2 separate regions of the Homo sapiens genome follow, and region 1 is linked to region 2. The links come from fine-mapping of genetic effects on gene expression. A gene starts in region 2. The other region holds a variant in brackets. All regions are shown on one strand. Distances are between the middles of the regions.

Region 1 (5,370 bases), 75 kb before region 2:
AAATTGGGTTGATACAGGTACCTACTGACAAGTTTATGTGAAGATTAGCTGAGATAATATGTGGAAAGCGCTAGTACTTATGGTGCAATACCTGCCACTTCGTAAGCATGCAGCGAGCGGTGGCTCACCATGGGGAGGGGTCTTCCATATTTAGCCCCACCCACCTCCTCCATCCACACCAAATCATTCTGGCAAAGCCCCAGCATATACAAGTGTACAGATCAGAGTCAACATTCAGAAACTTAATGGCTGTGTCTATGCTTACATTTTTGTATACCATGGTTTTGTTTTTTTAACTGATAGCTACAGTCCTTATTACGGTTACTAGCTCTTCAAATTTTCACCTGCTAAACCCAAAAGTTAAATTATACTCATTTTTATTTTGTCCTCAGAACCAGTGATTCATTGGTATCGCAATCTTTTTTTTTTTTTTTTTTTTTTTTGAGACCGAGTCTCACTCTGTCACCCAGGCTGGAGTGCAGTGCTGTGATCTCGGCTCACTGCAACCTCCACCTCCTGGGTTCAAGCGATTCTCCTGTCTCAGCCTCCTGAGTAGCTGGGACTACAGGTGCATGCCACCATGCCTGGCTAATTTTTGTATTTTTGGTAGAGATGGGGTTTCACCATATTGGTCAGGCTGGTCTCGAACTCCTGACTTTAGGTGATCCACCTGTCTTGGCCTCCCAAAGTGCTGGGATTACAGGTGTGAGACACCACGCTTGGCTGGTATAGCAACCTTTAAACAAGGTAACGGTCCCTGGAGGAGAGAGCAGCCACCCACAACAGAAGACCAAACCAAGGCCATCAGGAGCAAACAAACAATCAATACATTTGCGCATACCCACTGGTGAGGTGTTGTACCTGGAGGTCAGGTTAGATGACAAACTGGGTAAAAAAAGAGAGTGTCACAAGTTAACCAGCACTGCCCACAACACCAGGACAGGCCTGCAGGCCTCAGGACCCAGTTGCAGGCTTCTGGCCCACACACCTGCAAAGGCATGAGAGCAGGCGCAGAGCCCAGGTGCAGGTGAGGCCACTGTCCAGACTGAGAACAAGAACCACCCGGGCCGCTTCAGATGAGCAGGGCCAGCCTGGGCCAGGAACAGTGACTGTTAACTATGGATTGCCAAGCCCCCCAAGCCCTGAGCTGCCATGTCACCACTTATCCCCTCTGCTCCTGTGTCTGCAGAGGCCAGAGGAAGGTGTAGATTGGCTGACTGAAGCCCAGGGAGGGAAGCATTTGTGAGAGCTGGTGCTGGGGGAGCCAGGAGGCTGGGGGAAGGGAGGGAGAGGGAGGATCTGCCTCTAGGGGGCCATAGTGGCAGGCTCACACCTAGAGCACTGTGCTACCCAGCCACCAGATGGACACTGCAGGCATCACCAACATGAGCCAGAATCGGGAAGCACAGTTAGTGCCAAGCTGCCCCTCCACCCAGTTCCCCTCCTCCTCAGCTCCCTTGAGGCACATGGGGGCTTTCAGGACAGAAAACAAAGGAGGCCTGGGAAACAGGACAGGCAGCTTCAAGCTACTGAAGGGAGCAAAGAGGAGGAAATGTGGCTTCATTCCCCAAACTCTGGGAGCTGGAAGGGGTCCCAAGAGGCCAACCTCAGCAAGAAAAGGGCAGAGCGGAGCCTGGGCCAGGAGGAAACACATGGTCAGGAGGCCATAGAGGCAGGACCCAACTCTCACAGGTCTCAGAAGAACACGAAAAGGGCTGGGGACTGCTTCGGCCTGAGTAGGGTGGGGTACCAGGTCACACCATCCAGGCTCTTAGGTGCTCATGGCCAGAGAGAAGTCCCATTGCTCAGGGAAGAGGAGATCGCAGCCTGCCCTCCCGGCTGACGGCTGCCCATGACTCAGCACGCAGTGCACACGCCTTCAGATGGGCCCCATGTAAGCAGGCACTGCGGGTCTGTCACTCTCCCAGGGCCCTGCACAGGGGCATCTGGCCAAGGTGCTGCTTCCGCTCATGCATTTGCCCTCTATTCCCATCACCATGCTCCAGTCTAGCACATTCGCCCATTCCCTCCTTCTGTAGGGTCTTGCTCCCTCGATCTCCAGCACAGTGTGCACCTCCTTGCCTGGACCACCCCCACCTGCTCTTCACCAGCCCTGTCAGCCCTCATATCTCAGGGGAGAAATCTCTTCCAGATGCCCTCAGTCTGGGAGGGTCACCCCTTCCACGGCTCTCCCATGGTATCATGTGCTTTCACTGTCACTGCCTGGTTTCTGGTGGTGTAGACAGGAACTTCATCCAGCTTCCTACCTGCTCTATCCCCCAGGCCCTACCCTCGCTTCTGGCCCATAGAGATGGATAGAAGAGAAAAAAGGTGAGAAAACCTACGTGTCAGCCTATGATGGCTAATATTTGACTAACAGAAGTTCCAGAATGAGAAAAAGTGATGAAAGCAATTAAAAATTTTGCCAGAGCTGAAGACAGGAGTCTTCAGATTGAAAGGGGTAATGAAGAATCCAAAATGATAAATTTTAAAAGAAACAGCATTGTGGAATTTCAGAAACAAATTTCACAGATAAAGAGAAGATCCTAAATATTTCCAAAGAAAGAAAACAGACCGCAAAGAATCAGGAATGAAACGGCATCAGGTTTTTCAACAGCTATATTGGAACCCAGAAGAAAATAGCGCAATGGTCTTCAAAAATCTGAAGGAAAATGATTGTCAACCTAGAATTTTCTCCTCAGCCAAACTGTCAATTAAGGCTGAGTGCAGAATTATAATTTTTCAGACATAAAAAGACTCAAAACTTTCTTCTCATTTACCCTTTTTCAGGAAGCTACGAGAAGAGGTGTTCCACCAAAATGATGAAATATACCAAGAAAAAGGAAGACCTGGAACTCGGAGGTAGGCCCCAGAAAGGAAAATTTCAGGAAAACAAAAAGAAACTCAAAGACAGAAATCTTCAGATTGCAAGGAGCACTGAAAATACAGTCATGCGTCACTTAACAACAGGGATATGTTCTGAGAAATGCATCATTAGGTGATTTCATCATTGTGCAAACAGCATAGAGCATCCTTACACAAACCTAGATGGGCAAGCCTGCAACACACCTAGGCTACCTCGTAGGTAGAGCCTACTGCTCCCTGGTTACAAGCCTGGGTAGTA[T/C]GTTACTGTACTGAATATATAGGCAACTATAACACAATGGTAGATATTTGTGTATGTAAACGGTTTGTGTATATTTGTGCACAGAAACAGTTCAGTAAAAATATGGCATAAAAGATAAACAATGGTCACCTGCATAGGGCACTTACCATGAATGGAGCTTGCAGGACTGGCAGTTGCTGTGGTGAGTCACTGAGTGTGTAGTGGGTGAATGTGAAGGCCTAGGTCATTACCGTACAGTACTATAGACTTTATAAACACCATACATTTAAGCACGCTAAATTTATTTTAAAAAAAAATTAGCCAGGTGTGGTGGTGTGTTACTCAGGAGGCTGAGGTGGGAGGAACACTTAAGCCTGAGAGTTTGAGGTTATAGTGAGCTACATCGCCCCACTGCACTCCAGGCCTGGGTGACAGAGCAAGACCTTGCCTCTTAAAAAAATTTCTTCAATAAAATGAACCTTAGCTTACTGTATATTTTTTACTTTATAAAATTTTAAATTTCAGATTTTTGACTCTTTTGTAATACTTAGCTTGAAACACAAACACATTGTACAAAATATTTTTCTTTATATCCTTATTCTGTAAGTTTTCTATTTTAAAACTTTCAACTTTTTTTTAACTATTTAAACTCTTAAAACTAACTAAAAACTAAGACACAAACAAACAGACTAGGCCTGCACAGGGTCAGGATCATCAAGACATCTCCAGGCAACAGGAATTTTTCAGTTCCATTATCATCTATTTTTGAGACACAGTCTCACTCTGTCGCCCAGGCTGGAGTGCAGTGGCGTGATCTCGACTCACTGCAACCTCCACCTCCTAGGTTCAAGTGATTCCCCCCTCCTCAGCCTCCCAAGTAGCTGGGATTACAAACATGTACCACTATGCCCGGCTAATTTTTGTATTTTTAGTGGAGACAGGGTTTCTTCAGGTTGGCCAGGATGGTCTCGAACTCCTGACCTCAAGTGATCCGCCCGCCTTGGCCTCCCAAAGTGCTGGGATTACAGGCATGAGCCACCACGCCTGGCCCCCATTATCATCTTATGGAACCACTGTCATATATGTGATCCCTTATTGACCAAAATGTCTTTATGTGGTGTATGACTGTATTGAAAGGCCGCGGGAGGGTACAGTGAGAGTGAGAGATGGTACAAAGGAAAGTATGCCAATGAAAAATCTGAGGTGGTTATTAACTCCAGATAAAACAAATTTGAAAAAGAGACATAATCATGATACAACCAGTCTGACTATGCAGTAAATGTTATTTCTATAATTGTAACGACATGAAGACTGAATATGTATAGGCCCCAAAACCATGATAACTATTTCAAGAGTGAGTATGGATGGCGGAAAGAAGTGTGTTTAGAGGGGTGGATGATAAGAGAGCTGAATCCTCAACTACCATAATAGATAACCCAAAAGAACTAATTGAGAAATAGCAGTGTAGATAAGCATATTTGTCTGAAAGATAGAATATAAATTTCTATCTGCAGAACAGCAAAAAGTAGTTGCTCCTGCGGAACAGGCATGGGAACTGGGGAGGGATAGGGAACATATACTATTTTTCCTTACAAGCACTATTTTATTTTATTTTATTTTATTTTATTTTATTTTATTTCTATTAATTTTTGAGACAGAGTTTCGCTTTGTTGCCCAGGCTGGAGTGCAGTGGCGCAGTCTCGGCTCACTGCAACCTCCATTTCCCAGGTTCAAGCGATTCTCCTGCCTCAACCTCATGAGTAGCTGGGATTACAGGCGTCCACCACCATGCCCGGCTGATTTTTTGTCTTTCAGTAAAGACACGGTTTCACCACGTTGCCCAGGCTGGTCTTGAACTCCTGAGCTCAGGCAATCTGCCTGCCTCGGCCTCCCAAAGTGCTAGGATTACAGGTGTGAGCCACCGTGCCCAGCCCCTTACAAGCACTTTAGTACTATTTGACTTCTTGAATTATGCACACATGACTTTGAAAATGTTTAAATTAATGTTTGAAAAAGTTTTTGAAATAAAGTTTATGAACAAAAAGACAGACTTTGGCACATGAACCATCAGTCTCTGTAATCATTAACTACTACCTTCCCTTACCCCTCCCCAAAACAAAACACCACCTTCAACATTTCAGGTATCTCTAATTTGAGTTCCTACACGATATTAAAAAAGAATAAAACAACAGTATCCTAATCCTAATCCTCAACATCCTCCCCCATCCTTCCCACCCTTAACCTGAATTTTTGAACAGTGGTATGCT
Region 2 (5,370 bases):
CTCCTGTTCCCCCCCCGGTTCTATAAATAAACCAGGTTGTTGCATCAGAGAAAACAGCCAGGTGGGTGTGGAAAGATCCTGGTGGAAAAGATGATTTCTATAAAATAAATTAAGGTTCCCATTCAGATCAAGGGGTGGTAAGTCAAATTCTCCAAGACAGGCTGTTCTTGGCTGAAAATGGGTCCACCTGGACCTACAAGCTTGGCCAGCTCAGCTAAGGAAGATCCAGAGGCCAAGAGGAAAGCAAGGGCAGGAACTGGAAAAAACAATCAAAGAAGCTGCTCCCTGCAGGCCTGGAGCCTTTTTTTGGTCTGCCTCCTCCTGTTCCCCCAGCACCCCCTGAACAGATGTGTCATCTAACAGTCTGGTCAGAGTAGCTGATTGGTGGAGGGTGAAGGACTGGGGGAAGGGGTGGAATGATTTGGGGGATAGGCACCTCTTCTGAAAAAGAATGGGCTAAGAGATCCAGGAGAGAGCTTTTCGCCCCATATACCCACCCCCTTGGGCTCCAGGAACCAGGAAGGAGGGAGAGGACAGAAAGGAGGAAAAAAACAAGGTCCAAGCTATATACCACATGATCCCACACCCTGCCACCAAACAGCAAGTCATGAAGGAAGGCGGGGAGCAGGCCAGGGGATGGGGAAATGGAGTCAGGTCACAGCCATGCCTGGAACCTGCACTAACGCCCTCCCCATCCCAGACCACAGAGAGCCAGCCAGGAAAGTCATTCCACACCCATGTTTCAGAAAACATTCAAGGTCAGATCCTTTTTACCTAAATCCTGCTTTCATTTGGGTTTGCACCAGGCTCATCCCCCTCCTCCAGCAAGCCTTCCTGGATTTATTCACTCAGTGGATGCCATTCCACTGGGGCAAACCTTTCCGGCACCTCTCCTGACCTAAGGCACAGTCCTGCCCCAATCCCCTTACCCTCCTACCCAGATCACTCCCAAGTTAACCACTTGAGTGATCCACAGCAGGCTGTCAGCCCCGGGGACTGGCTTCCAGCTCCTGCCCAAGCCCAAAACAGGAAATGGGGCTCCAAGGCTGAAGCCTTGATCTTAACACAGGCAAGGTTAAATGCTGCCAAAATAAATGATTTAAAAAAACCCTGGCCCACTGAGGTGGAAGTGACCGGGAGATAATCTCCTGCTGTTCATTAACCATGCCGCTGCCTCTACCTCAGGCAGGGCAGGGCAGGCAGGCAGGCCACTGGAAGGCTGACTCAAGTGTTTCCTTCCTTAACTTAGAAGCTCCTCCTATCCTCAGACCAGGGACACAGGACACAGAGGGACAGGATGGGGGTGGGGGGGTGACATCTCTAGATAGTGGAGGGCATCTTGAGAGCAAGAGGCAGATGCCCCCTGCAGCCAGCTTCTACGTTTAGCGGGGTAATCAACATTCAACCTCGCCCTGGAGGAAGACACCTGGCTTTCCTTCCCCCGTAGGGCAAGGCTGCGCCTCTCCACTCCCCTGCCGGACAGGCGCCCGCAGTTCCCCTCCCCTTTGAGGAAAGGGAGGCAGGCCCGGAGGTTCTAAGAACGGCCCCAAGATTTCCCTTCTTGAGGTTTCCATAGCCCCAAAGCCTCTGAATCTCATTCCTAACTTTACTTGACAATCTACTCCTAACGTTCGCCACCACTTAAACCTCCCCCAGGCCTCCCAGGGACCACCAGTGGCTGAGCCCCACACAGCGCACGTTTGGGAAGCTTGAAGACGACCCCGAAATGCGAAGAACCAACGTTTCTGTCGGTTTACGCCCTTAAGCACGAGGCAAGGGCTCACTGGCCCGGCTGAAGTTCGGGGTCCTGATCCCCCACCAGCCCCGCCCTGTTAGGCCTTTAGCCGTTTCTGTGCCCCCGCGCCCCCTACTCACTGCGTGTGCTGGGCGCGGCCTGCGCCGAAGACCTCGTCCAGCGCCACCGTGGCCTGGCCCAGGAACTTGTCGACGCCGATGAGCGAGCGGTGCATGGTGGTGAGCACCAGCTCGCAGGCGGCGGCGGAGCTCGCGGCCCAGGGCGCCGGGCCCGCGTCGGCCTCCTGCGCCCGCAGCAGGCCATCCAGGGCCCCCGGCGGCAGCTCGAAGGAGCACTCCTCACGCCACTCGGGGCAGCCGTGCGTCTTCTCCACCACCGACGTACTGTACTTCTCGCGGCCCACCTGGATCACCGTGTACGCGTCGCTGGTGCTGCCCGCTCCCGAGCTCTTGCCCCGCAGCCCGCGGGCCCGCAGCACCGTCACCTGGACGTGCGTGGGCAGCCAGCGGGAAGGCCCCGCCGCCGGCTCCGCGCCCCGCACCAGGGCCATGGCGGAGAAGCGGGGGGCGAGGTCTGGCCGAGCCGGTGCAGACCCCAGGACCTGGTGACAAACCCGGCCGCGGCAGAAGGCGGTCAGGAACCAACTCTGAGCGCCGCCGCAGCTGCGGGCTGGGCTGGGCCGGGCCGACCGGCCGCCGCCTCCCCGCCTCACCGGGCCGCTGGCCGCGGGCCGCGCCGCGACGTCAGCGCCCCGCCCCCTGCCCCGCCCCGCGCCCGCCGCCCCAACCGGCGAGGCGGTGCGACAGGGATGCGGGCACGCAGCTCGCGCCCCGGCAGCCGCAGACCAGCCCGGAGCGGGAAGGGGCGGTGCGCGGCCTCTGCAGAGGGTGGGCGGAGTTCCCGCGGTGGCCCCGCCCCTGGCTGGGGGCGCCCGAAGCAACCCGGCCTCGCTTGTGGGGAGCCCTACACCCGCGGCCAGGTACGAAAAACCCGCTCTGCGCCTCCAGGCCAATCCCACGTCTTCCTTCTAAAAGTCCCTGCTCCGGAAAGCCCTCTCCGTAAAAGGGTCCCGGCCCGCAGTTCCTGGGATGGCCAGCCTCTTGGCGCGGACTTGGGGTGATGGGGACCCCCGCCGCTCCCCTGACCCCGGGCCGCGCTCTCCCCTCCTCCAGTCCGCCCCTGCGGGGGAAAATGCCGGAGTGAAACTGGAGCGATTGCCGCCCCGCCACGTGACGGTCCCGCATCGGCGACCTGGAAGCGGGTGAGCTGCCGCCGCCTCCAATCTCTCCCGGCGCAGGGGGCCGGGATGCGGCCATGCGGCGGCGCGGGAGGCCCGAGAGCGGGGCTCACCCTCCTCAGACTCTGCGGCGGAGAGCCGAGTGATGAATAAATGAGTAACCACATCAATATTTAAGTGTTCACTCGGAGCCTTGGGGCCAGTGTGTCACGGGTTGGGGGAAATTACAGGCCCTGGTGGGGGGTTAAATAACTACTTCCACCCATTATTAAGTGCCTACTGTGTGCCAGGGCCTAAGTATTAACGTATACTTGGTTTATTATTGATAATAACGATGTTTAGTAATTATAGATGCTGAATTTCAGCCAACTCTGGTCAGTGCGCTTTTATATGCATTACCTCATTTTATCCTCAGAGCAACTCTGTGGGGTGAGTATGGCTTTTATCCCTATTTTCCAGAAGATAAAATGTCAGCTCAGATGGGGGAGGGTTGTGAATCCACTAGATGCCCCCAGAGCGTTTTTTTTTTTTTTAACTTTCAGAGCCTGTACTTTTAAAATAATAATTTAAAAATAATACACACAGCTTTTTTAAAAAAATCAAATAGGACAGAATGGCTTGCAATGAAAAGCAAGAACTCCCTCTCCATCCTTCAATCCAGGGATGCTGCTTAAAGCCACTGGTGTTTTCAGGTCTGATGGTTACCTCCACATCACTACATTAAGATGCTCACATAGCTACATCTGCATTTATCAGGACTGGCCACTGTCTGTTGCCTTCCTCCTATGATAGATAATGATTTAGCTGGCTCACACCCACTTCCATCCCTCAATCTTGTGTAGTTATGCTATTATTTTTAGTTCCTCTATAGCAGGGGTCCCCAACCCTTGGGCCACAGACTGGTAACCCTCCATGTCCTGTTAGGAACTGGGCTGCACAGTAGGAGGTGAGTGGTGGTAGGGGCTAGCTGGTGAAACTTCATCTGTATTTACAGCCGCTTCCTATCGCATTACCGCCTGAGCTCCACCTCCTGTCAGATCAGCTGTGGCATTAAATTCTCCTAGGAGCACAAACCCTATTGTGAACTGTGCATGCGAGGGATCTAGGTTGCATACTCCTTATGAGAATCTAATGCCTGATGATCTGTCACTGTCTCCCATCCCCAGATGGGACCATCTGGTTGCAGGAAAACAAGGTCAGGGCTCCCACTGATTCTACATTATGGTGAGTCATATAATTGCTTCATTATATATTACAATGTAATGATAAGAGAAATAAAGTGCACAGTAAATGTAATGCACTTGAATCATCCTGAAACCATCCCTGCCACCCTCAGTCTGTGGAAACTTACATTTTGGTCCCTGGTGTCAAAAAGGTGGGGAACCAGTGCTCTATAGGATACCCAACAGGAGAAACATGTATTTCTTCTTAGGGAGACTCCACAGTACCCCTCAACTGTCCACCTTCCAGGCCATGTCCTCTACTGGGAATATGAACCTAGGAAACCAGTAGAGTAGGCAGAGGAGACCCATGATAGCACACCCAGCACAGGCCCAGTCCTCACAGCCTCCCACCTTAACTCTTCCATCAGAAGACTGGAGTGGGGAAGTCCTAGGCACCAGCCCCATGGTCCAGCAACCCTGACGATAGCACCTAGCTTTAGAGACAGCCAGATCTGCCTACAGATATTGGCCATCTGCCTCTTAGTAGCTATGAAACCTGAAGTTTAAGCCAACTCTCTAACCTCTCTTGGCCTTATTTCTCCATTTGGATAATGGGATAATGATTCTTACCTCAAGCCAGGCGGAGTGGCTCACACCTGTAATCCCAGCACTTTAGGAGGCCCAGGCTGGTGGATCACTTGAAGCCAGGAGTTCAAGACCAGCCTGGGCAACATGGTGAAACCCCACCTCTACTACAAAGACAAAAAATTCCCCTGGCGTGGTGGTGGGCACCTGTAGTCCCAGCTACTTGGGAGGCTGAGGCACAAGGATCACTTGAACCTGGGAGGCAGAGGTTGCAGTGAGCCAAGATTGTGCTGCTACACTCCAGCCTGGGCGACAGAATGAGACTTTGTCTCAAAAAAATAAAAAATGGGGCCAGGCCTGGTGGCTCATGCCTGTAATCCCAGCACTTTGGGAGGCCGAGGCGGATGGATCACTTGAGGTCAGGAGTTCCAGACCTGCCTGACCAACATAGTGAAACCCCGTCTCTTCTGAAACTATGAAAATTAGCAGGGCATGGTGGGGCACACCTGTAATCCCAGCTACTCAGGAGGCTGAGGCACAAGAATCACTTGAACCTGGGAGACAGAGGTTGCAGTTAGCCAACATCGCACCACTGCACTCCAGCCTGTGCAACAGAGTGAGACTCTCTC

What was found. PIP is the estimated chance that this variant, and not a neighbour inherited with it, causes the effect.
Region 1: its variant is the best candidate, but not a certain one, in a credible set for the expression of RAB11FIP5 in whole blood (INTERVAL, PIP 0.77).

The regions. Positions count from the first base shown.
Region 1 is chr2:73,035,075-73,040,444 of GRCh38, forward strand. The region is part of intron 3 of SFXN5 (sideroflexin 5); the gene reads right to left. Among named protein-coding and RNA genes, the nearest start is that of SFXN5, 34 kb to the right of the region's middle. RefSeq lists an enhancer at 1,550-2,435. The variant T/C (reference allele first, on the strand shown) is at 3,125.
Region 2 is chr2:73,110,472-73,115,841 of GRCh38, forward strand. RAB11FIP5 (RAB11 family interacting protein 5) reads right to left here and starts at 2,477. Exons shown (of 6, transcript NM_001371272.1): 1 at 1,876-2,477. The coding sequence starts at 2,306. RefSeq lists silencers at 1,085-1,328, 2,486-2,575, 2,646-2,805.